2 separate regions of the Homo sapiens genome follow, and region 2 is linked to region 1. A link means that fine-mapping ties the variant in region 1 to the expression of a gene that starts in the linked region. Tissue or cell type: sun-exposed skin. Region 1 holds a variant in brackets; the other region holds the start of a gene. All regions are shown on one strand. Distances are between the middles of the regions.

Evidence for each region.
Region 2: it holds the start of SH3KBP1, and the variant in region 1 is fine-mapped to the expression of SH3KBP1 in sun-exposed skin (GTEx, PIP above 0.99).

Annotation. Positions count from the first base shown.
Region 1 is chrX:19,831,813-19,839,812 of GRCh38, forward strand. SH3KBP1 (SH3 domain containing kinase binding protein 1) reads right to left here. Exons shown (of 18, transcript NM_031892.3): 2 at 4,313-4,470. Among named protein-coding and RNA genes, the nearest start is that of SH3KBP1, 52 kb to the right of the region's middle. RefSeq lists a silencer at 4,708-4,767. The variant G/A (reference allele first, on the strand shown) is at 3,828.
Region 2 is chrX:19,883,373-19,898,933 of GRCh38, forward strand. It overlaps SH3KBP1 (SH3 domain containing kinase binding protein 1), which reads right to left and starts at 4,228. Exons shown (of 18, transcript NM_031892.3): 1 at 3,935-4,228. The coding sequence starts at 3,938. RefSeq lists silencers at 3,630-3,769, 4,250-4,319, 4,380-4,679 and an enhancer at 6,845-6,894.

The DNA.
Region 1 (8,000 bases):
TTCCACAAAACTACCCAATTCCATCTGGGGACACATTATTCTTACACTACATAGGACATGCATAAAGCCACTTTCAAAAGTGCACACCTATGCCAATATGATTACTATTACTTAAAGATGCATTTTCAGCTTTTAGAATTCTCTACAGAGTCCTGGTTATTGTTTAACTCCACTGCAACCACCTACTGAATTTTCAATAATAGGCCTAAAACATTTCCAGTGGGTGAAGACTTGAAAATAGACTCAGCCATCTGAAAGAATAGAAGTTTCTTTTTCTGCCAAATGTGACAGCTACAAGTAGCGCAGCCCCAGCCACTCCTGCTACATCCTTTCTGCCCTAGGTAGAGCAAGCATCTCTCAAGAGCATGTCTTCCCCTCCCTGGAAGTGCTCCGGCTGAAACTAGAGGACACCTGAGCAGGTGAGCGCAGGGCAATTCAGGCCCAGAGGAGAGGACCCATTCCCTCACCCAGTGACCAGCACTGTGGCACACTCACTGAGGGGCTGGCCACTGTGCTAAACAATTTCCAGCATTCTCTGGTTTAATCCTCTGAACAGGCCGATGAGGTAGTCGGGTTCTCAAAAGGAAACAGATGGCCCACTCGAATTAGGGTAATCTCAAGTGGGATTAATACTCTTTCACAGGGTGGGTGAGGTATAAAGAAAGCCCAAGGTGGTAGCCAGGGACTCGAAACAAGGAAGCCCCCAGACCTGAAGGAATGAGGAGAGAGGGGTAAGGAGGAAGGTGAGCCTGACTGGAGCAGCCACCCATCCCATGAGAGACACGGCCAGCCCAAAATCCACATGAGCAGGGAGTTGGTGGGATAACCGCCTCCCCCCGCCCCCCAATCTCACTCGCATCCCTCCCTGCCATCTCCCACCAGGGCTTCCCTTGAGCCAAAGCCCATGGGAAGCCACAGGACAGGAGCCTGCTGCCATGCCCACACTGGCCTAGCCCAAAGCAGAGCAGGTGGGGCAATGCGGAGACCTTCTGGTCAAGACATCACCTCCATTTCACAGCAAGGAGTCCTCTCCGAGCAGGGGGAGGGTCAGGTTCCAGCTCTCGCGTGGGCAGTTCCTACACTGCATTTCCCTGCCCTGGTTCCCTCCACAGTCACTGACAGCGCGCCAGCCCTATGCTATGAGCAAATTCCATAGGCTTTCTCAGTGCCTTCCAACTCAGTTCTCTGAATCTGTAGATTTGTGGTTTAAAATCAGGTGACACTAGGCCAACAAGACACATTAAAGGTGTTCAAAATACGACCTACCCTCAAAACTGGAGCTGATGCTGCAGTCCCTTCTCCTTCCCAGGCTCCTCCTCTCTCTTTCCCATGGTCCTCCTCTCCTTCCCACGGTCCTCCTCTCCTTCCCACAGTCCTCCCTCCTTCCCAGGGCCCTCCTCCCTCTTTCCCACAGTCCTTCTTGCCTTCCCACATTCTTCCTTCCTTCCCAGGGTCCCCCTACCTCTTTCCCATGGTCTTTCTCCCCTTCCCACAGTCCTCCTTGCCTTCCCACATTCTTCCTTCCTTCCCAGGGTCCCCCTACCTCTTTCCCATGGTCTTTCTCCCCTTCCCACAGTCCTCCTTCCTTCCCAGGGTCCTCCTCTGTCTTTCCCACAGTCTTCCGCCCCTTCCCACAGTCCTCCTTCCTTCCCAGGGTCCTCCTCCCTCTTTCCCACAGTCCTCCTCACCTTCCCAAAGTACTCCTTCCTTCCCAGGGTCCTCCTCTCTCTTTCCCATGATCCTTCTCCCCTTCCCACAGTCCTCCTTCCTAGGGTCCTCCTCCCTCTTTCCCACCATCCACCTCGCCTTTCCACAGTCCTCCTTCCTTCCCAGGGCCCTCCTCTCTCTTCCCCACAGTCCTGCTCACTTTCCCACAATCTTGCTATCCTTCCCCACAGTCTTCCCTCCTTCCCAGGGTCTTCTCTCTTTCCCACAGTCCCCTTCTGTCATTCCTTCTTCCTTCATCTTCACTCTAACCACTGCCCCTTTTATCTGGAAAAACCCTCTTTCCACACTAGAATGCAGCTCAACTTCAGGGATGCTCCTTTCCTAAAACTGGGGTCTTTGTTGGGATATGCAAAAGAACTCCCATTCACACCTCAACAGAGTCTGTGGTGGCCCAGATGCAGCACTTTCCCACTCTTAAAATGGGAGCGAGCGGCTGGATTCAAGTGTAGTACAGTGGGGGGAAAGCCTATATTCCTACAACTCCAGAAAGCAATGTTTAGCAGCATGTTCCCTACAAAACTCTCCCCAGCCTTCTCACACCAAAGAGAAAAGAAAACAGAAATGCTAGCAGGATCACCCTGAGACAAGATCCTAAAGAAAGATTTAAATAGGTTCCTATTCATTTTCGACTCTGAAAGGGTAGTGACTGGAAGTCCAGTGTCCATCACACATTTTTCATCAACAACTCCTTGTCATAAAAAACCCCTCCCACCCAGCCCTCAGGGCTCCTTTGGCGGGGGTCACCTGCTTCTCTGGGCCCAAGGTTCCCCATACTACCTGCCTCCCTGTATCCAAGGCACAGTCCTCTTAAGTATTATCTGGTAACACGGAGACTACAGCAGGGGACCTGGGGACTTCTGCATGCAGGTCTTCCCACTGAGGACAACCCATTCTTCTGAGAACAATCCATTCTTCTCCAGTATGAGATAGAAAGTTTATGGCAAGGGGACTTCTAGACCTAGTTAATATTTCCCATGAGGAATAGCCTCCAGGTGATCTTTTTCTACCCAACAATTCAAAGTACTACTTACAACTGTGTGGTAATTTATTAATATGAATGAGTTACATTTTTATAATTAACCTGTAGATGACTTCTCCAAAAGGCATAATTTTCAAAACATTACTGAAGAAGTAAGTCTTGTTTAATGCTTCATGGACATAAAGGGGTAAAGGAAAATAATATTGCTCCTATCAAAAAGGCAATATGAGCTGGGCATGGTGGCTCACACCTGTAATCCCAGCACTTTGGGAGGCTGAGGTGGGCGGATCACTTGAGGTCAGGAGTTTGAGACCAGCCTGGCCAATATGGTGAAACCCCATCTCTACTTAAAAAAAAATACAAAAATTAGTCGGGCGTGGTGGCACATGCCTGTAATCCCAGCTACTCGGGAGGCTGAGGCATGAGAATCATTTGAACCTGGGAGGTGGAGGTTGCAGTGAGCTGAGAACAAGATCATGCCACTGCACTCCAACCTGGGCAACAGAGCAAGACTGTCTCAAAAAAAAAAAAAAAAAGGCAATATGAATACAAAGGTGGAAAACATTGCATAATTTGAATTCTATATTCATTCATTCGTTCAAAGCATTCCATAATTTGGATTCTACCTTTACTTATTTGTTTGTTTATTTATTTAGAGACAGGGAGTGCTCTGGCATGATCACGGCTCATTGCAGTCTCAACCTCCTGGGCTCAAGTGATCTTCCCACCACAGCCTCCCAAGTAGCTGAGAATACAGGTGCACACCACCATGCCTGGCTAATTATTTTATTTTATTTTTGTAGAGACAGGGATCTCCCTATATTGCCCAGGCTGGTCTCAAACTCCTGGGCTCAAGTGACTCTCCTGCCTCAACCTCCCAAAGTGCTGGGATTATAGGCATGAGCCACCATGTCTGGCTGAATTCTACATTTAATTTAATTGTTATTTAAGTGGTCAAAACTGAGTTTTACCTCCATTTTGCAAGGAATAGAAAAAAATAAAATTCTTTTAAACTTCCAAAGCAAATAAACAAGTACATACAACAATTTAACAGCCTTTACTATTTTTTTTTTTTTTTTGAGACAGTCTCGCTCTCTTGCCCAGGCTGGAGTGCAGTGGC[G/A]CAATCTCAGCTCACTGCAACCTCTGCCTCCCAAGTTCAAACGATTCTCCTGCCTCAGCCTCCCGAGTAGCTGGGACTACAGGCACATGCCACCACACCTGGCTAATTTTTGTATTTTTTTTTTAGTAGAGATGGGGTTTCACCATATTGGCCAGGCTGGTCTCAAACTTCCGACCTCAAGTGATCCGCCCACCTCAGTCTCCCAGAATGCTGGGATTTACAGGCATGAGCCACTGCACCCAGCCTTAGCATATCCTAAGAAGTGATACACAGTGGAAAGAGATCATCCTGAGCCTCAAAAAAGCAATTTCAAAACAAGTATCCCAGATACCAAGGGCAAAACTATACATGCTTCTCTTGATATCACAGAGGAGGGCAAGCCATTCCCTAAGAGAGTTCATGCAATTCATCCTCAAGCGCCCCCATAGACTTTGGTCAGCAGAGCCCACACAGGAGACAGGAAAAGGGTTTTGCTTTGTACTCACTCTTACAAAGTTGTCAGGGAACAAACCTCTCCTGCCGTTGATCTGTCCCTCCCACCAGCCTCCATCCTCCTTCCTGATGTTGGTGATGATTTCACCCACGCTGATCGTCAGCTCATCATCGTGCTGGGCCTGGTAGTCAAACTCCACTATGGCCTCCACTGGAAGGAACAGGGAAAACAGAGTAATTTAGGTCAGATGTTGGAGAAGGCTGAGGTCCAGTATCCCTTGAAGGCCAGTAAAGTAACATTAAAGGGACTTCCCCTCTACAAATATTCAAAATAACAGGGCCACACACAGTAACCCAATTTTGGTTAACCTGAAGCCTATAGCACAGAAACCACAAAGTGCTGGTCCGTGGTCAGGCACAGGCAGGGTGGCCTACAGGTCTTGGGGCCAGCAGGCGCTTCAGAGGGGAAGCTGCATGATGACAGCCAGATAACAACATTTGCCCCACCCAGAGGGTGTCCAGCATTGTCTCCCCGAGCTCAGAGTACAGACAACAGATGTCGGTTTGACTTCTGGGTCTCCCATCCCCCGCCAATACTATGTGATGCTAACCTCTCTGGGTCTCAGTTGTACAAAATGTCAAAGCTAATAATCCCCATCTGATATGGTTTGGCTGTGTCCCCACCCAAATCTCACCTTGAATTGTAGTTCCCATAATCCCCAAGTGTTGTAGGAGGGACCCAGTGGGAGGTAATTGAACTATGAGGGCAGTTACTCTCATGCTTTTCTTGTGATAGTGAGTGAGTTCTCATGAGATCTGATGGTTTTATAAGGGACTTTTCCCCCTTTTGTTTGGCATTTCTCCTTCCTGCCACCATGTGAAGAAGGATGTGTTTGCTTTCCCTTCTGTCATGATTGTTAAGTTTCCTGAGGCCTCCCCAGCCATACTGAACTGAGTCAATTAAACCTCTTTCCTTTATAAATTACCCAATCTTGGGTATGTCTTTATTAGCAGCACAAGAACAGACTAATACACCATCCGACAGAGGTAACACCCATCTTGCAGCAACAACACGTGTAAAGACAGGTGGCATAGAGGGCCTGGCTGGCCAAGCCAATGTCTCAGACCGCCTACATCAGAACCACAACTGCCCTCTCAACAGATGAGCTCTTACGCATCAATTCCATGTTACATTGTTTTCCTGATCTATGAAAATCTCTCATACTTGGTAATGAGCAAAGGCAACAGGTAAGAAAGGTGGGTCTTCTCACTGACAAAGTGCCAATGCAAATTAGCAGCATTAACCAATCCAAAAATTAGTTAACTTATGCAATTCATTTAGACTGGACTTCTCCTCATGACCACCTCAATATGAACCAATTTCATAACACTTTTTTTTTTTTTTTTTTTTTTTTGAGATGGAGTCTCACTCTGTCACCCAGGCTGGACTGCAGTGGCGCAATCTCAGCTTACTGCAACCTCCACCTCCCACGTTCAAGCGATTCTCCTTGAATGCATGCCACCCCACCCAGCTAATTTTTGTATTTTTAGTAGAGACGGGGTTTCACCATGTTGGCCAGGCTGGTCTTGAACTCCTGACCTCAGATGATCTGCCCGCCTCGGCTTCCCAAAGTGCTGGAATTACAGGCATGAGCCACCGTGCCCAGCCACCTTTTCCTTTTTTATTTGCAGATCCGTATGAATGAATGAATGAATGGCAAATGAATGAATACAAGGATAGCAAAAATTAGATAAATCCCCAGTGGTAAATTAGCAATTCAGAAATTATGATAAAATAATGGAAGAGGAAAAGTTAAATGAGCTCTGTAAAGCATGCATATGCTAAAATTAACTCAAAATAGTTCACAGACCTAAGTGTAAGAGCTAAAATTGTAAAACTTTTTATAAGAATGGATAGGAGAAAATCTTAATGACCTTAGGTTTGGCAAAGATTTCTTAAATAGGAGACAAAAAGCACAAATGAGTAAAACAACAACAACAACAACAACAACAACAACAACAACAACAAACCAACTTCAATACACTGAGATAGGTTTTAAGCATCCATTGAGATGATGGGAGAAAAAAATTACAATGTCTATTCATTTTGTTTTAACTTTAAAAAAGTAATAATTCAACTTCTCTATTGTTCCATTGACAGAATGACACAGGTTCCTTCACCCAGTCTCCAGGACACACAGTCAGGGATCCTTTAAGGGGCAGGAAGCAGCCAGAGGGACAGTGGAATCAAGGAGTACCACCAGAGCAAGCACCAGCATTCCATGTGATGCTAACTTCTCTAGGTCTCAGTTGTATGTCAAAGCTAATAATTCCCATCTGATATGGTTTGACTGTGTCCCCACCATGGGGTGCCCTGCAGTTCTCTGGTGCCTCCTGGTACAGCCTCCTTATGGCTATGACCCCTTCTTGCTGAAATCACCCTCACAAAGTGGGTCAGCTGCTTGAAAAGATCTGTGTAAAGAAAGTAGGAGCTGTAGACAACACGAGGCCAAGTGCCAAGAAAATGGGAGAGCTGGCCGGGCACGGTGGCTCATGCCTGTAATCCCAGCACTTTGGGAGGCCAAGGCCGGCGGATCACAAGGTCAGGAGTTTGAGACCTACCTAGCCAACATGATGAAGCCCTGTCTCTACTAAAAATACAAAAATTAGCTGGGCTTGGTGGTGGGTGCTTGTAATCCCAGCTACTCTGGAGGCTGAGGCAGGAGAATCGCTTGAAACCGGAAGGCGGAGGTTGCGGTGAGCCAAGATCATGCCGCTGTACTCCAGCCTGGGGAAAAGAGCGAAACTTTGTCTCAAAAAAAAAAAAAAAAAAAAGAAAAAAAGAAAAGGAAAAAAAGAAAGAAAGAAAATGATAGAGTTGCCACTTCAGCTTCTGCTGGGAGCTCTTTGCCCACCACATGGGGAAGACACATCAGATCTTACGGGGAGATGGCCCCCAAACACTCAGTTATCAAGATCATTCATAATATGGGTTTCTTTCCACCCCTGACATTGGTGTAAGTGTGGAACCATCAGGATTAGCAAGATATTTTAAAACTATGTACCTGAACCATGAAGAAAATGTCTTCATTTTTCCACCAATGTCTAAAGTCATACAATACTCAATTTTATGTGTTTCAAAAGTTTGTTAAGCCTAATAATAACAGCGTAGGAGCTTCTCTGGGGTTTTCTTGATCTTCAATTAGTACAGGAATATATGTACACAATCTATACATAATTAAGAAGATACTAAAAAAAAAAAACAAAATTTTTTTTTTTTTTTTAGACAGGGTCTGGCTCTGTTGCCCAGGCTGGAGTGCAGTGGCACCATCTCAGCTCACTGCAACCTCTGTCTCCCAGGCTCAAGTGTTCCTCCCACCTCAGCCTCCCAAGTAGCTGGGACTACAGGTGCACACCACCATGCCCAGCTAATTTTTGTATTGTTTGTAGAGACAGGATTTCACCGTGTTGGTCAGGCTGACTTCAAATGTTCTGCCTGCCTTGGCCTCCCAAAGTGCTGGGATTACAGGCGTGAGCGACCACCCTGGCCATTGCCCTTTCTTTAAACTTAAGTAATCATGCACAGCCTCCTTGCCTTCTGGCCACAGCTAGGTCCTGACTGCCTCCACATCACCTTCCAAGCTCTTCTAGACCCAAGGCCTCTCTGGCCCCTGCCACTGAGGCAATCCCAAGCTGTGTCTTGTCTTCCCTGTGAGCCCCTGAATGCCTTCTGGGTATGGA
Region 2 (15,561 bases), 55 kb after region 1:
CAGCTTGCTCTTTCTCTGTCACTCTCTCTTCCCTTAGTATAGCATTTCAGATGTCCATCGTGCTTAGCATTGAACAACAGTCCAGGCTATACCTGGTTGATATGAAGTAGCCACAGATATACCTAGAAAGCCATTTTCCTCCCCCACTGCCTCCGATTCCCTGCCCCTGCCTGTCACATAGTTAACTCGGAGAAAGAGCAGTTCTTCTGGCTGGGAGCTGGCCAGGCACCCACAGCTGGGCCAGGGTGTCCTGTTGAACAGAAACAATTCCCTAGAAAACCAACATCAGACAAGGCCACTCTGCGACCAGGATGGAATAAGATGAAAACAAGACCACACATTAATCATGTCTGAACACGGACAAAACATGCACCTTGTCCAAACCACACACATGACCAAATATCCCCCAATCCTGGATAATGCAAATGACTGCTGCTGCTTTACCAACCATAGCTGTGGCCTGCCTCCAATGTTCCCTGCTCCTAGAGAACATTTGTTAAAATACCCAATCACAAATTCCCCCTGGTAGCATCCAATCCAAAGTAATGCCCAGCTTCCTTAAACACGCCCTCAAGCCACCTGACACAGGTGCAAGCCCTCTAAGTCATCCTTCCTTGTACCATCTTACTGAGATGCCCCGCGGTTCCCACGGTGCTCGTTTTCAGTCTCTGCCACAAGAACCAGGTGTGGCTGGAGGGCAGTGATGACTCATACTCAACCAGATTTCTGCTCAAACACAATCTCCTCTAAGACACTGTCCTGGGCACTCTCCAGGCTAAGTCAGATTGGCCTTCTCCACTCATCTTTCATGCGCTCTACTATGGCTTTCAGCTACATACTGCCATGAGAATTGCATTCAAGTCAGCCTTCATTAGACTGAGAAGCCCAAAGTGTCATGTCTCTGTTCTGCACCTGTTCTTAGCACAGTGCCTATGCAAAGAAGATCAACAAACATTGGATGGATGGATGGATGGATAGATGAACAAATACTGCTGTATGCAAAATACATTAAAAACAACTACAAACTCAAGAGTTGATGAGAGAATGTCAGTAACGCCAAAAGAACTGAAGTAGTAAGAGAAGAAACCACCAAGGTTTGTGTAACCAGAGCCACAGCAAGCTTTTGCTCGTGCCAAGATGGATAGAAGTGGGTAAAGCTTATGTACAATTAAGGTGGGAGCCTTTTCTTCCATTTCTAACTCAAGACATTTGTACAGACCAACACATTATGTTCATTTTAGCTTTAGTTTAGCATACAGCAGTCTACCGCCAATACAATAAATACATTGCCAAAGGCTATCCAAACTTTGTTGTTACTCTGGAATTAAACAGAAATCATTTGTGGGCTTGCAAACCCTTCACTACTCACAGATTTGGGTCACCATAATATCTGTTTAATTGTAATTATAAGAGGCTTTCTCTGTGTCTGGCACTGTAGGCATGCATCTCCTAGCAAGTTCAGAGGGCACATTCTGATGGGCTTTTATAAGAGGCCATGTTGCAACTAACCAGCTTCACTTCAGGGTTAGGGATTTGGTTCTTTTCTGTTATTTTTCAGAAAACGAAATATAAGATACAGTTTTACTATGTTATCCATCAAGAGAAAACTCATTATCAGGCCAGGTAAGAATATAAGTGTATCAGAATCAGGCACAGTGGTGTGAGCGTGCAGTCCCAGCTACTTGGGAAGATCTGGAGTCCAGGAGTTCAAATCCATCCTGGGCAACACAGCGAGACCCTCCCTCTTAAAAAAGAATAAAATTGCATCAAATTGATAAACTGGATAAATCTGAAAACCAGAGACTTGGGGGAAAGGGTGGGCCTCTGTCTGCATACACACAACCTCAGCCCATTAGATCACTCCATTGGAAGACATACAGAATGAACCGTTAAATAACTGCACTTCATTACAAATATACTGCTGGAGATGCTTTCAAAAGAGCAGGTGATTTTTAGCCACAAACTACTATAAGCACCTTAAATCCCACTATAAACATGAATTAAATTACATTCGTTTTGACATTATCACCTCTAAGTATTAACTCCTGAAATAAATGAAAATCGATGCCCCCTCCCCCTGCAATAATGGTTGCAGTAAAGATTAAGTACAAAAGGACTAAAAACTACAGGAGCACTCTATTTTTCGTAGGAAGTTCTGAAGAATGAAAACAGTTCAAATCTGAAAAATAGGTCTGATTCTTCTTAAATGAGACTCAGTCCCCTTCTCATTGAGATACAGAAAGCACAGTCTGGCCATGGGAGAAGACATTTGGATTAACTTCTTTTTGTGCATAACCCTCTCGGTGACCCACCCAAAATGAAAGGTGATCAAAACAGAATTTTTGGTTACCTCGGGAGAAATTAACCCATTACTAAAGTGGCCTGTAAGGTTTAAAGTATATACTTCTGCCAATGAACTAAATCATCTTATGGGCCAAAGCAAAACAAGAGTGAGCTAAGTGTTCTGTCCCCAGCAGAGGAGGAGGATTTCATGCCCCTCATTCATTCATTCAACAAATATTTAGGTCCTGCTCTGTGCCACACACCAAAAGTGCTGAGCAAACTATGCAACACTGTGCTGTCCCTATGGTCACAGAGCTTACAGTAGAGGAGATAACTGTTACGCACAAATATGTAATACTGCTACGAAAAAAAAAGGTGTTGTATGAGAAAATGGAACAGGAACCAATTTAGACTACAGGTGGGAGAGAAGGGCACTGTGAAAAAAGTGACATTTAAGCCAAGGGGACAACAGATCACCACTACTTAGAAAAGGAAAACCTTTTTTGGCAAATGACCACAAATGGGATTTTAACTTTGCCTGTCAACAACGGACTGGGTTAAACCTCCTCTTTTCCAATCCTTCAGGCTTTCTGAACATCCTGACTAGTGTACTGGAATCCTATTACCTGAACACAGAAAGGTCTCACTTTATTATGATTTATTATTATCTGCAGCCTTCCTATGCCTGGCCTAGGAACATCCAAAAATAATCTGCCAGAGGCTGAAAAACAGAAGCTGGCTGTCAGCAAGAACATTACCTGGGTAGACCAAACATTTAATAGCCCAAGTAATCATAAGTGCCTTGCCAATAAAGTGGCAGCTTCTCTGGGCAGCAAGGTGGTTCCAATGCTCCGGGGTCTAAATCAAATGGGACCCAGGGGGTTCAAAGGTTAGTTGGCTACTTCGAACTGATGTTTACTCAGTAAATCAAAGACCGGATCACCATTTCCAGGTCCCAGACCCTGAAGACTTAAAGGACAGTATGGGAAGTGGCCTTTTAGCATCACGGAGCAGAGAGCTCGCCAGGCTGGAGGAAGGCAGCAGCGAAAGGGTCGGGGCCGGGAGGAAGGGGGGCGCAAGGAGAGGAGCGTCAGGTGCTCTGGACCCCGGGACTGCGAGCCAGACCAGGAACTGGGGCGTTTCCCGCCCCACCCCCCAACCCCTGTCAACCCCCAGCAAAGGCAACCCAGCCCCCTCCAAGACCCCGAGGTTCCAGCTTCCCCCGAGACAGGACCAGGAAGACACCAGCAGCCCCGCGCAGGGCCGGAGCCCACCAGGTCCGGGTGCCCGTGTCCGCAGCGCAGAGGAGGGCGCGCTCGGGTGCAAAAATGGCCAAGACAAAACTCTCCCCGCCCACCCGAAAAACCAACCACACCCCCTGCATCCCTCAGCCCGAGCCGCCCGGGGCCAGCCCCCGTGATCGTCTGCTCAGGCCCCCGCGGGTTCCCGTCGGCGCCGCGCGCGGGCTCGGCGGGCACACGGGCGCAAGTGGGAGTGAATGGGGGTGCGCGAGGCAGGCGAGGGCGCCCACCGCGGTGTCCCCCGTCCGGACCCTGCCCCCGGGGCGCCCTCCCGGGCTCCGCGGTTCTGGGACTGGCGCGCCGCCCTCAAGGCTGAAGTGGACGCCCGGACGCGGGCGGCCCCCACTCACCCATTGGCGTCGAGCCGGGCCGGGCCGCCGAGGCAGCGTGAAAGTTGGCGGAGGCGGGCGTGGGGGTTGGGGCGCCGGGATCGGGGCGCTGGGATCCAGGCGCGAGGGTCCGGACGCGGCGGCGGCTGGGCCGGCTTCTTCCTCAGTGGCGGCGGCGGCGGCTCAGCGCCGCCCGCTGCTGCCTCTGCTGCTGCTGCCGCTGCTGCCCCGGGGCGACTCCTGCTGCTGCTGTTGCATCGCGGCCCAATGCGCCCGGCTGCGCCGGGTTTCCTGCTCCCCGCGAGTGGAAATTGCGAAAAAAAAAAAAAAAAAAAAAAAAAAAAAAAAAAAAAAAAAAAAAAAAACAGCGCCGCCCAGCCCAGCGCCCGGCAGCCGCGGCCGCGCCGCCCGCTCTCCCCTCCTCCTCAGCGCTGCCGCGAGGCTCCTGCAGCTCCGCCTGCCGGGGACGCGCGGCCGCCGGGCGGGGGCGGGGCCGGAGAGGGGCGGGGCCGGGGCCGGGGCCGCGTCGGGGCAGGCGCCGGGGGCGTCCCTGCGGCTGAGGGGCTTGGGCGCCCTCCTCACCGCCCGCGCCAGAGGCACCCCTCTCCGCGCGGCTGCCACCCACCCGCAGCGGCTGGGCTGACGCCCCGGGAAGTGCCGCGAGACTCCTCGAGACCGGAGGAGAGGGGCTTCTTGGGGGAGGGGCGTGGGAGTGCAGGGGCACGTGGAGAAGGAGGAGAAGGGGGCTGAGCGGGAGGGGGCGACAAGAGGTGGAGGACGGGCTGGGGATGGAGACCAGGGCAGGCCCGGGGCCAAACGCCTGACCAGGGTGATGGCAGGTGGCCCTGGGGCATCGAGGCAATCTGGAATGAGTTTTCCCGGGGGGCTGTTGGAGGGGAAGGAAAAGGGTCCCTTGGAAGGGAGAGAAACGCGGCGTCCCTTCGGTGGGGCGTGGGAACGCAGGCAGGCCAGGTGCGAGTTCCGCACAGAGGAGGCGGTGGCACTGACGTGGGGAAAAACGGGCGAAGGACGCAGCGGGGCCGAGGGGACGCATCGCCTCGCTGGGACCCGCCTAAGCCCCGCCCCAGTGCCTGGGCCAGGTGCGGTTCGGGTGTTCAGGAATGTTCCCGAGCTCTGACGTTCCCAGGAATCCGCTGAGATGAGGGCTGGCTCCCTCCCTAGCAGGCATTATTGTGCCTTACTGACTCCCAGACCTGGACGGCCGACCCTTGAGTGGGCGCTAAAATGTTAACAGGGAATCCGTGGGCATTCGTGGGCAATTCAGAAGCTCCGTTTTGGGTCCATTCACCACCACACCTTTCGCCATAGATACTCTGCCTGCCACCACATTCCTCTACCGGCCCGTTATTTCCTTTTCCCTTTCCACCATCTGGTGGTAGGAAGCGATAGTGAACTACATGGGAGACATTTAGGCAAAGAGCACGTAAGACAATAGAGAAATTACATCAGTGGCCCCTGGAAATGGAGGAGGCTGAGGGCTAGTGGACTCAAAAGGGACAAATGAAAGCCGACCCCCTACCCAAGAGAGGGGCTGTCTCCATACCTCACCTGTGTTGGCGGGGCAACTCTTGTAAATTGGTTACCGTCCTGGGATTTCTGTAGAAAATTGTTCTTATAACTGTTTCATGAGTTTTTCAAAAAACCTCAAAGTCAGGGTCTTACAAACAAGAGATCAGTAGCATCATCTTTCTAAATACCGTTCATGTGTGTCAAACCGATCGAAATAGGAGACTAATCAAGGGACAAGAGGCCCATCCACACAGAGGCTGCAATTGAAGTCCTAGTGTCATCAATATCAGACTCCTAAAAAAGGGATCAGAGAACACGGAGATTAAGAATGTGAAGGCCGGGCGCGGTGGCTCACGCCTGTAATCCCAGCACTTTGGGAGGCCGAGGCGGGCGGATCACGAGGTCAGGAGATCGAGACCATCCTGGCTAACATGGTGAAACCCGGTCTCTACTAAAAAATACAAAAAATTAGCTGGGTGTTGTGACGGGCGCCTGTAGTCCCAGCTACTCCGGAGGCTGAGGCAAGAGAATGGTGTGAACCCGGGAGGTGGAGCTTGCAGTGAGCCAAGATCGTGCCACTGCACTCCAGACTGGGCGACAGAGCGAGACTCCGTCTCAGAAAAAAAGAAAAGAAAAGAATGTGAAGTGGGCCAGGCACGGTGGCTCACGCCTGTAAACCCAGCACCTTGAGAGGCCGAGGTGGGCGGATCACCTGAGGTCAGGAGTTCAAGACCAGGCTGACCAACATGGCGAGCCCCTCTCTCTACTAAAAATACAAAAATTAGCCAGGCGTGGTGGTGCATGCCTTAGTCCTAACTCCGTGGGAGGCTGAGGCACAAGAATTGTTTGAACCTGGGAGGTGGAGGTTGCAGTGAGCCTAGATGGCGCCACTATACTCCAGCCTGGACGACAGAGCGAAAAACTCCGTCTCAAAAAAAAAAAAAAAAAAAAAGAATGTGAAATGTTGAAGGCAGGGATGATGAATACTCAAATATTCCTCCTCCAGGCACCCTGGTGCCTCACTCATTACATGTCTTGTTATATCATGTTCTAATCAGGGCAATCAAGCCTTCTGATACCATCTTAGAGTTGACAAACACTGAAACTCACAGAGCCTGGATAAACCCTCTGCTACTGGGACATTTTTTTTCCCCCAACCCCAGAAGAACTGGTATGGGGGTCTGCTCAATTCCAGAGGTGGTTCTCTTTGGTAAGGCCGTATCAGTGGGTCATCCTAACCCTCTCTCAAAGAGCCTCAGACCCCTGAAAGTGATGGGGTACATTTCAACATGGCAACAGTTGTGCTGGCCTTGCAGTGGACTGTTATCTGGAGTGCTGAAGATTCTTGGCTGGTTGCCCAGTGCATTCTCACAATGATGAGTCAAAAGTCTTTGAACATTGTTGATGATACCTTCCCATAGCTAAACTTACCCAGGCATCACAGAGGCCACTACACCTAAACCAGCAGATGGGGTGCGGGAACCCTGTCGGCTCAAAGAAAAAGAAAAAATCAGCAGTTTGTCTTATGTCCTGCTTGGTCTCTCTGTCCTATGTGGAGAAGACAGTCTTCTCATGGAATTTTATTTCCAACTTCACACAGGTGAACACAGATCACTTGAAATTTGGGGGGTTTGTTTCGTTTTGTTGTCTTTTTTTTTTTTTTTTCTGAGACAGGGTCTCACGGTCACTCAGGCTGGAGGGTAGTGGCGTGATCATGGCTCACTGCAGCCTCAACCTCCTGGGCTCAAGTGATCCTCCCACCTCAGCCTCCCAAATAGCTGGGACTACAGGCACGTGCCATCTCACCCGGCTAATTTTTGTAGTTTTTGTAGAGATGAGGTCTCACTATGTTGCCCACGCTGGTCTTAAACTCCTGGGCTCAAATGATCCTCCCCCGCCTCGGTGTCCCAAAGTGTTGGGATTACAGGCTGAGCCACTGCGCCCGACTTGCTTGAAGTTTTGAGTCTTGTTTATTCTCTGGTCTATTTCAAGGCATATCTTTTCCTTCTTGGACAGGAATGCGGTGTCGCTCCTCCTTGATCTGCTTCCTGCGTGGTCAAATTTGCGTTACCACAAAAGAAAGACTGATGGCAAGACAATATTTTTGAAAATCCCTGAGCTATGTCCTAATTTTATTTTTTATTTTTTTGTTTTTGAGATGGACTTTCACTCTTGTTGCCCAGGCTGGAGTGCAATGGTGGGATCTTGGCTCACTGCAACCTCCACCTCCCGGGTTTAAGCGATTCTCCTGCCTCAGACTCCCGCGTATCTGGGATTACAGGCATGCGCTACCACGCCCAGCTAATTTTGTATTTTTAGTAGAGATGGGGTTTCACCTTGTTGGCCAGGCTGGTCTTGAACTCCTGACCTCAGGTGATCCACCCGCCTTGGCCTCCCAAAGTGCTGGGATTACAGACGTGAGCCATCGCACCGGGACATGTGCCCTAATTTTAATGCCTTAACTAAACAAAGTTGTGGTGATTCTATCCAAAACACTATAGTTTATTTTTCATTTTAAGTTTCTCTGACTTATGAAAATGAACCTTCCATTTTTTCACTTATTGTTTAGTTCTTCTGAATTGTTCCTATTGTCCTTTCATTTTTCCTTGGAGAAACTTTTGCTGACCAGCACAAGGGAAGTTAATATCAAGATTCAGATCCAGCTGCTGACATGAATAGATGCATAATTTCTCATCCTGCCTCCCTCTTACAAGAGTATCTTTTAACAAAATGGTTATTGCAATATTTCAAATGATGTAAATTCATCTCATGAATATTTCTAGAGAAATAGGATTTTATTTAATACATCTTTGTCCCACTGAACTCCCATTTCCACCAGAGGAGATTATGCAGTTTGGAAATAGAAAGTATCGGAGCTGTTACACTTAAAATGATATCGTATGACTTAAAAGGCACCGCTATGTTGCTCAGTAGTAGTAACATATTTTTGGATAGAAACTGAAGGTGTGGCCGGCCATGGTGGCTCATGCCTGTAATCTCAGCACTTTGGGAGGCCGACGTGGGTAGATCACTTGAACCCAGGAGTTTCAGACCAGCCTGGACAACATAGTGAGATCCTGTCTCTACAAAAAATACAAAAATTAGTCGGATGAGGTGGCGCACACCTGTAGTCCCAGCTACTCAGAAGGTTGAAATGGGAGGATCACTTGAGCCTGGGAGGTTGAGGCTGCAGTGAGCCGTGACTGCACCACTGCATTCCAGCCTGGGTGACAGAGCAAGACCCTGTCTCAAAAAAAAAGAAAAAATTGAAGGTGGGTGAGCTTCTGTCTTTCATACTTGCTATCTCTGAGTACTCGGACTTAACATCTGTAATTTGCCTTTAATGAACAATACTTTGATAACCTTTAATATTGTCTTTACATTAATATAAATTACGTGCTGAGTGCTGTACAAAAGACACTCATTGTATAGTGCTTCTGATGAACTTTATGGAGAAATGTAAAAATCTCACAGTGCCAGAAAGTAAAGATGTACTCAACAAAGGTGACAGGGCACAGCAGAAGGGCACAGGAGCCAACCCCAAAGGGCTCCCAAAGGCCAAAGCTGGAGCAATTCAAGCAACAAAATAATTAATGATTGTATTGGAAGAAAATTAATATCTTTGAGTCTATAGAAATACAACTAAATAACTGACTAGGGGAAAATATCAAGGAGAAGGGACAAGTCTTCCTTACAGAGGAATTCCAATTAAAGTGTAGGAGAAATGAGAGAAAGGGAAAAGCATCATTAGAACATCACAGTAACTGCTAATATAGGCATGATCCAACTACCGTTCACAAATGAGTGGGTGAAACTTTAAGGAGAAACAGAATATTTGCATAGCCTCAAAGTATTTTCCCTGAAATAAATATGTCTTCATATTTAAAATGGGGGAAATAGTAACTTTACTTGGAGAACTCTGGCAAACAGCACTTTTTTTTTTCTTTCTTTCTCTTTTATTATACTTTAAGTTGTGGGATACATGTGCAAAATGTGCAGGTTTGTTACATAGGTATACACGTGCCATGGTGGTTTGCTGCACCCATCAACCCGTCATCTATATTAGGTATTTCTCCTAAGGCTATCCCTCCCCTAGCGCCCCACTACCCAAGAGGCCCTGGTGTGTGATGTTCCCCTCCCTGTGTCCATGTGTTCTCATTGTTCAGCTCCCACTTGTGAGTGAGAACATGCAATGTTTGGTTTTCTGTTCCTATGTTAGTTTGCTGAGAATGATGGTTTCCAGCTTCATCCATGTCCCTGCAAAGACATGAACTCATCCTTTTTATGGCTGCATAGTATTCCATGGTGTATATGTGCCACATTTTCTTTATTCTATCATTGATGGGCATTTGGGTTGGTTCCAAGTCTCTGCTATTGTGAATAGTGCTTCTTTTGAGGAGTGTCTGTTCACTTTAAGCAAGCAGTCATGGCTCTGTGCTGATGGCTTTTTTTTTTTCTTTTTTTAGACAGGGTCTGACTCTGTCGCCCAAGCTGGAGTGAAATGATGTGATCTCCGCTCACTGTAACCTCTGCCTCCTGAGCTCAAGCTCAAGAGATTCATGTACCTCAGGTGTGCACCACCACACCCAGCTGATTTTTGTATTTTTAATAGAGATGGGGTTTTGCCATGTTGACCAGGCTGGTCTCGAACCCCTAGCTGAAGTGATCCACTTGCCTCAGCCTCCCAAAGTGCTGGGATTACAGGTGTGAGCCTGATGGTTTTGAGGCAGGCTTTTCCATTCCTCCTTTGCTTCATGCACACCAGGTTAAAGGTAACTGATGTCTAGATCAAAAGCCACAGAAATATTAATGACAAATGTCTTGCTCTATTATGTTTACCTGGCTTGATAGCCTCTCTTAGAATGACCCACTCCCTTCCCTCTTTTTCCTTTTCAGTAAATCTTTTTCAGCAAATCTAACAGGACTGGGTTCACCTGCTCTATAAAGATGAACAAACGAATCAAATCAGAGAAGTAGATCACTTATGAAACAGCTAAACCATGACCTTCTTTACAAGGTTTGTGGGAACGCCTCGCTTTGTAAACAAAGGAAAACACAAAGGAAGCAACTAGAAGGTGAGACGTGCATGTCCACAATGCTACAAAAATAGGATGTCCTCGTTTAAAAATCCAAAGAATGCCTGAGTAATCAACTCCCAAGCTGACTGGTCACACAAGCTTGTATCCAAAGTGCGCAAAAAGAGCCCTGGTGCACAGATGAACTTGCCAAGAACATTTTTCCATCCTTTTCCACAGCACTGCTTTGTCTAAGAAAATAGTAAATTGGGAGAATGGTCCCAGGAGATTAACAAAAAACATGGTTTCTACTGTTTTCTACCCATCCTGCTGGTTTCCTCCCCCACCAAAATCACAAGGGGTCATGTGTAAGGAACTACATTTTCACAATTAAAAGGCAAATCAAATGATAATCAAAAAAGTTCCCAAAGCACCAGACATTAAGATCATATGTGTGATATATATATTGTAATAAATGTTAACATTAAGCCAGGCATGGTGGCTCACGCCTGGAATCTCAGCACTTTGGGAGGCCTACCCAGGCAGATCACTTGAGGCCAGGAGTTCAAGACCAGCCTGGCCAACATGGTGAAACCCCGTCTTTACTAAAAATATGAAAATTAGCCGGATGTGGTGGTGCACGCACGTTAATTCCAGCTGCTGGGGAGGCTGAGGCAGAAGACTCGTTTGAACCCGGGAGGTACAGGTTGCAGTGAGCCGAGATTGTGCCACTGCACTCCAACCTGGGCAACAGAGCAAGACTCCGTCTAAATAAATAAATGTTAACATTAAATAGAACAATGGCATTTAACATAGGAATAAACTGTATCAACAGGCCAATTTTTAAAAATGGAAACTGATAAATTACTATGGGAGGCTTTTGATCTCATCGGTAATGAAAATTTAAAAGTAGGAATTGACTTGCAAACATAGTTTCTCTTTTTGTCCCAGAACCTTCGGGAGAAGCTAAGCTCAGGGGCTCCTTCACAGGCTGGGTTCCTTTGGAGCTCAGCCTCCAGGCTGCACAGACATTGGCCCGTGTTCCTGACAGAGGGAAGAACAAGTGAGGATGTGCAGAGTCTGCAGAACAGATGGCATTTTCAAGGGGTCTCCTGTGGAAGGGGCAGGAGTGTAGTGAAATGTCTGATTCTAAATGGTTTCTATGTCAGGGCCAGATCAAACAAGACCCTGCAGGCAATGGGTAGGAGCACAGGTTTCTTTTTTCTTTTCTTTTCTTTTCTTTTTTTTTTTTTTTTTGAGACAGAGTCTCACTCTGTTGTCCAGGCTGGAGTGAAGTGGCACAATCTCGGTTCACTGCAACCTCTGCCTCCTGGGTTGAAGCAATTCTCCTGCCTCAACCTCCCGAGTAGCTGGGATTACAGGTGTGCACCACCACACCTGGCTAATTTTCGTATTTTTAGTAGAGATGGGGTTTCACCATGTTGGCCAAGTTGGTCTCAAACTCCTGGCCTCAAGTGATCCACACACCTCGGCCTCACAAATGCTGGGATTACCAGTATGAGCCGCCGTGCCTGGCCTGGAGCACAGATTTCTAAGCAGGCTGTTTTTAGGGAGGTAACTGGTGAGCTCTGTGGAGAAAGGACTGGAGGAAGAGCTTGCAGGTGGGAGGCCAGCAACAGGCCAGAGGTGGTAAAGGCAAGAAATATGATGGCAATGATACTAACAAAGAGGAGAGGTTACATTCTAGAGCCATTTTTGAAATACATTTGACAGGCTCTGATGAGGCAGTGGATTTGACGAGAGGATAGGGAGCAAAGATGGAGGATTCAATAGAGATATTTTGTTAGTTGGCTTGGAAGTTGGATAGATAATGGAGTTTCAACTAAGTGGAGAAATCCACTAAGTGGAGAAGGAAGTTTTTGTTGGGGTAGGGATGTGGAGGAGATAATGAATTCAAATTTGAATGTTATTAAGAGCGAATACAGCCAGGCTCGGTAGCTCATGCCTGTAATCTCAACACTTTGGGAGGGCAAGGTGGGTGGATCGCTTGAGTCCAGGAATTCAAGACCAGCCTGGGCAACACAGCGAAACCCTGTCTCTACAAAAACAAAAACAAAAAAATGCAAAAATTAGCCAGGCATGCTGGCGTGTGCCTGTAGTCCCAGCTACATGGGAGGCTGAGGTGGGAGGATCACTTGAGCCTGGGAGTTTGAGGCTGCAGTGAGCCAAGATTGCACCACTGCACTCCAGCCTGGGTGACCGAGCAAGACTTTGTCTCAAAAAAAAAAAAAAAAATGAATACAAAAGGGAATGAAGTACTGATTTATGCCACAACATGGTTGACCCTTGAAAATATGATGCTAAGTGACAGAAGCCAGTTGTCGAAAGCCACCTATTATATGGTTCCATGTATATGAGATTTCTGGAACAGGCAAATCCATAGAGACAGAAAGTAGGCTAGTGGTTGTCAGGGGCTGGGGGAATTGAGGAGTGACAGCTAATGGGTACAGGGTTTCATTTTGCGGTGACAAAACGTTCTAAAATTGATTGTGTTGATGGTTCCACAACTCTGTGAATATACTAAAAACTGTTGAATTATACATTTTAAAATGGGTGAATTGCCAGGCACAGTGGCTCACACCTATAATCCTAGCACTTTGGGAGGCCGAGACGGGTGGATTGCCTGAGGTCAGGAGTTTGAGACCAGTCTGGCCAACATGGTGAAACCCTGTCTCTACCAAAAATACAAAAATTAGCTGGGCATGGTGGTGTGCGCCTGTAGTCCCAGCTACTCGGGAGGCTGAGGCAGAAGAATCACTTGAACCCAGGAGGCAGAGGTTGCAGCAAGCCGAGATTGCACCACTGCACTCCAGCCAGGCAAAAGAGCGAGACTCCGTCTCAAAAAAAAAAAAAAAAAAAGTTAATTATGTGATATGCAAATTATATCTCAATAAAAGCTGTTAAAGATTTTAAAAGAGTGATCATGGTTACAGCATTTCAGTATGGGAAGATGCAAATGTTCTGGAGATGGATGGTTGTGATGGTCGCACAACAATGTGAATGTATTTAATGCCACTGAACTGTACATTAATAAATGGTTAAAATGGCAAATTTTGTTATGTATATTTTAGTACCAAAAGAGAATGAATACATATGTGATTGGTGGGTTATATGGGGCTGGGTGGGGACGATATTCCCTGTGTTTTAACTCCTCCAATAATACCCCCACACTGCTTCCCAAACAGGAAATCAGAATTACAATAACCACCACCCCATCACCTCGGGGTTCAGAGAAACCAAGACCAGTGGCCTGAGCTGACGGTGAAACGCCACAGCCATCCCCTAGATTGTGAAGGCCCCAAAGCAGACAGCCAACCTCAGATGCATCCTCAAGCCCGAGGCTATGGGACTTAATTGAAAAGTCTCTGAACCAGGCGGTCACTTAATAAGAGATGGCACAACCCTTTTCTAGCACGACTTCTTATTAAATAGAGTCAGTCAAATCAAGTTCCTCTTCTCAAAAATAATTACAGACCAGCCAGAGGCAAAAGTGGGAAGTAAGTCAAGTTCATCTTCTTTGTTTTGCTTGCCAGCCCTGGGTTAAGGATTCTATTCCCCAGCTGAAGTTTTCTTTTCTGGACCACAGAAGCTCTCAAAGTGTGGTCCCCAGCCCAGCAGCAGCAGCATGTGGGAACCTGTTAGAGATGCACGCTGGGGACCCCGCCCCAGGCCTTCCGGGTCAGGAACTCTGGGGCTGGGACCCAGTAACCTGTGTTTTGATCAGCAGCTCAAGTGTGAGAATCCCCGCTGTACCTCAACTCCTCAGAGCCAAGGTGAACGCTCTGTCATCTGATGAACTGCTTGGTCCTTGGCAATGAAAACGGGCTCAAGGGAGCTACCAGTGAGGCATAGCCCTGAACTGGTAAAACTGACTTGATGTTTTGCGATATATATTCATATCATTATCATTAGAAAAGTAATCTCTGCTCAGTATTTTAAAAAATAAAACAGGCCAGGCACAGTGGCTCATGCCTGCAATCCAAGCACTTTGGGAGACTGAGGCAGGAGGATTGCTTAAGCCTAGGAGTTTAAGACCAGCCAGGACAACATAGTGAGATCCCATCTCTACAAAAATAAAATAATAAAAAATCAGCCAAGCATGGTGGCACGCACCTGCAGTCCCAGCTACTCGGGAGGCTGAGGTGGGAGGACTGCTTGCGCCTAGGAGGTCGAGGCTGCAGTGAACCATGATCACATCACTGTCCTCCAGCTTGAGTGACAGAACAAGACCCTGTCCCAAAAATAAACTAAACTAAAATAAAATATTAAGGATACAGTGTATAAGGTGAAAATCTTCCATCATCTCACAATTACCAATTACTGCAGAGATAATTGATAATCACTGTTAACTCTTGAAGGAATATTCTTCCAGACATTTTTTAAAGTGTGTAATGATACTAAGATATATGATGATTTCCACCTATTATCACTGTAATTTTTTGGAGCTAGTAATTCCTCTTTAGTGCTCTAATGATGGAAATTGAGAACACTGAAGAGGGGGTACTATTTTCCCTGGAGGACTCTCAAATCACCTTTTTCTTTTTTCCTAAATTTGAATGCATTTCATAATCTTCTTCTGGGAAGAAATTAGAATTCCTGAAAAAATGCTAAAGCAATTCTCTGATACTCTTTAATGAGATTAAGCCCTTGTCGGGGAGACTGCTCCCTCCACCCCCTGCCCCCGTCTCAGCTGACCTAAGGTCAGAAGTCTAGTGATGTTTAGCCAGACATTCTTTCACCTTGTGTCCAGTCTGACAATGATCATCTAACCATTCACTTCCCAGAAAATGTCCCAACCAAGGGGGAATAAGAGGGAATCTTGGGGCTGGGTGCGGTAGCTCATGCCTGTAACCTCAGCACTTTGGGAGGCCAAGGCGGGTAGATCCCCTGAGGTCAGGGGTTCAAGACCAACCTGGCCAACACGGCGAATCCCTGTATCTACTAAAAATACAAAAAAACTAGCCAGGCATGGTGGTGGGCACCTGTAATCCCAGCTACTTGGGAGGCTGAGGCAGGAGAATTGCTTGAACCCGGGAGGCGGAGGTTGCAGTGAGCTGAGATCGTGCTACTGCACTCCAGCCT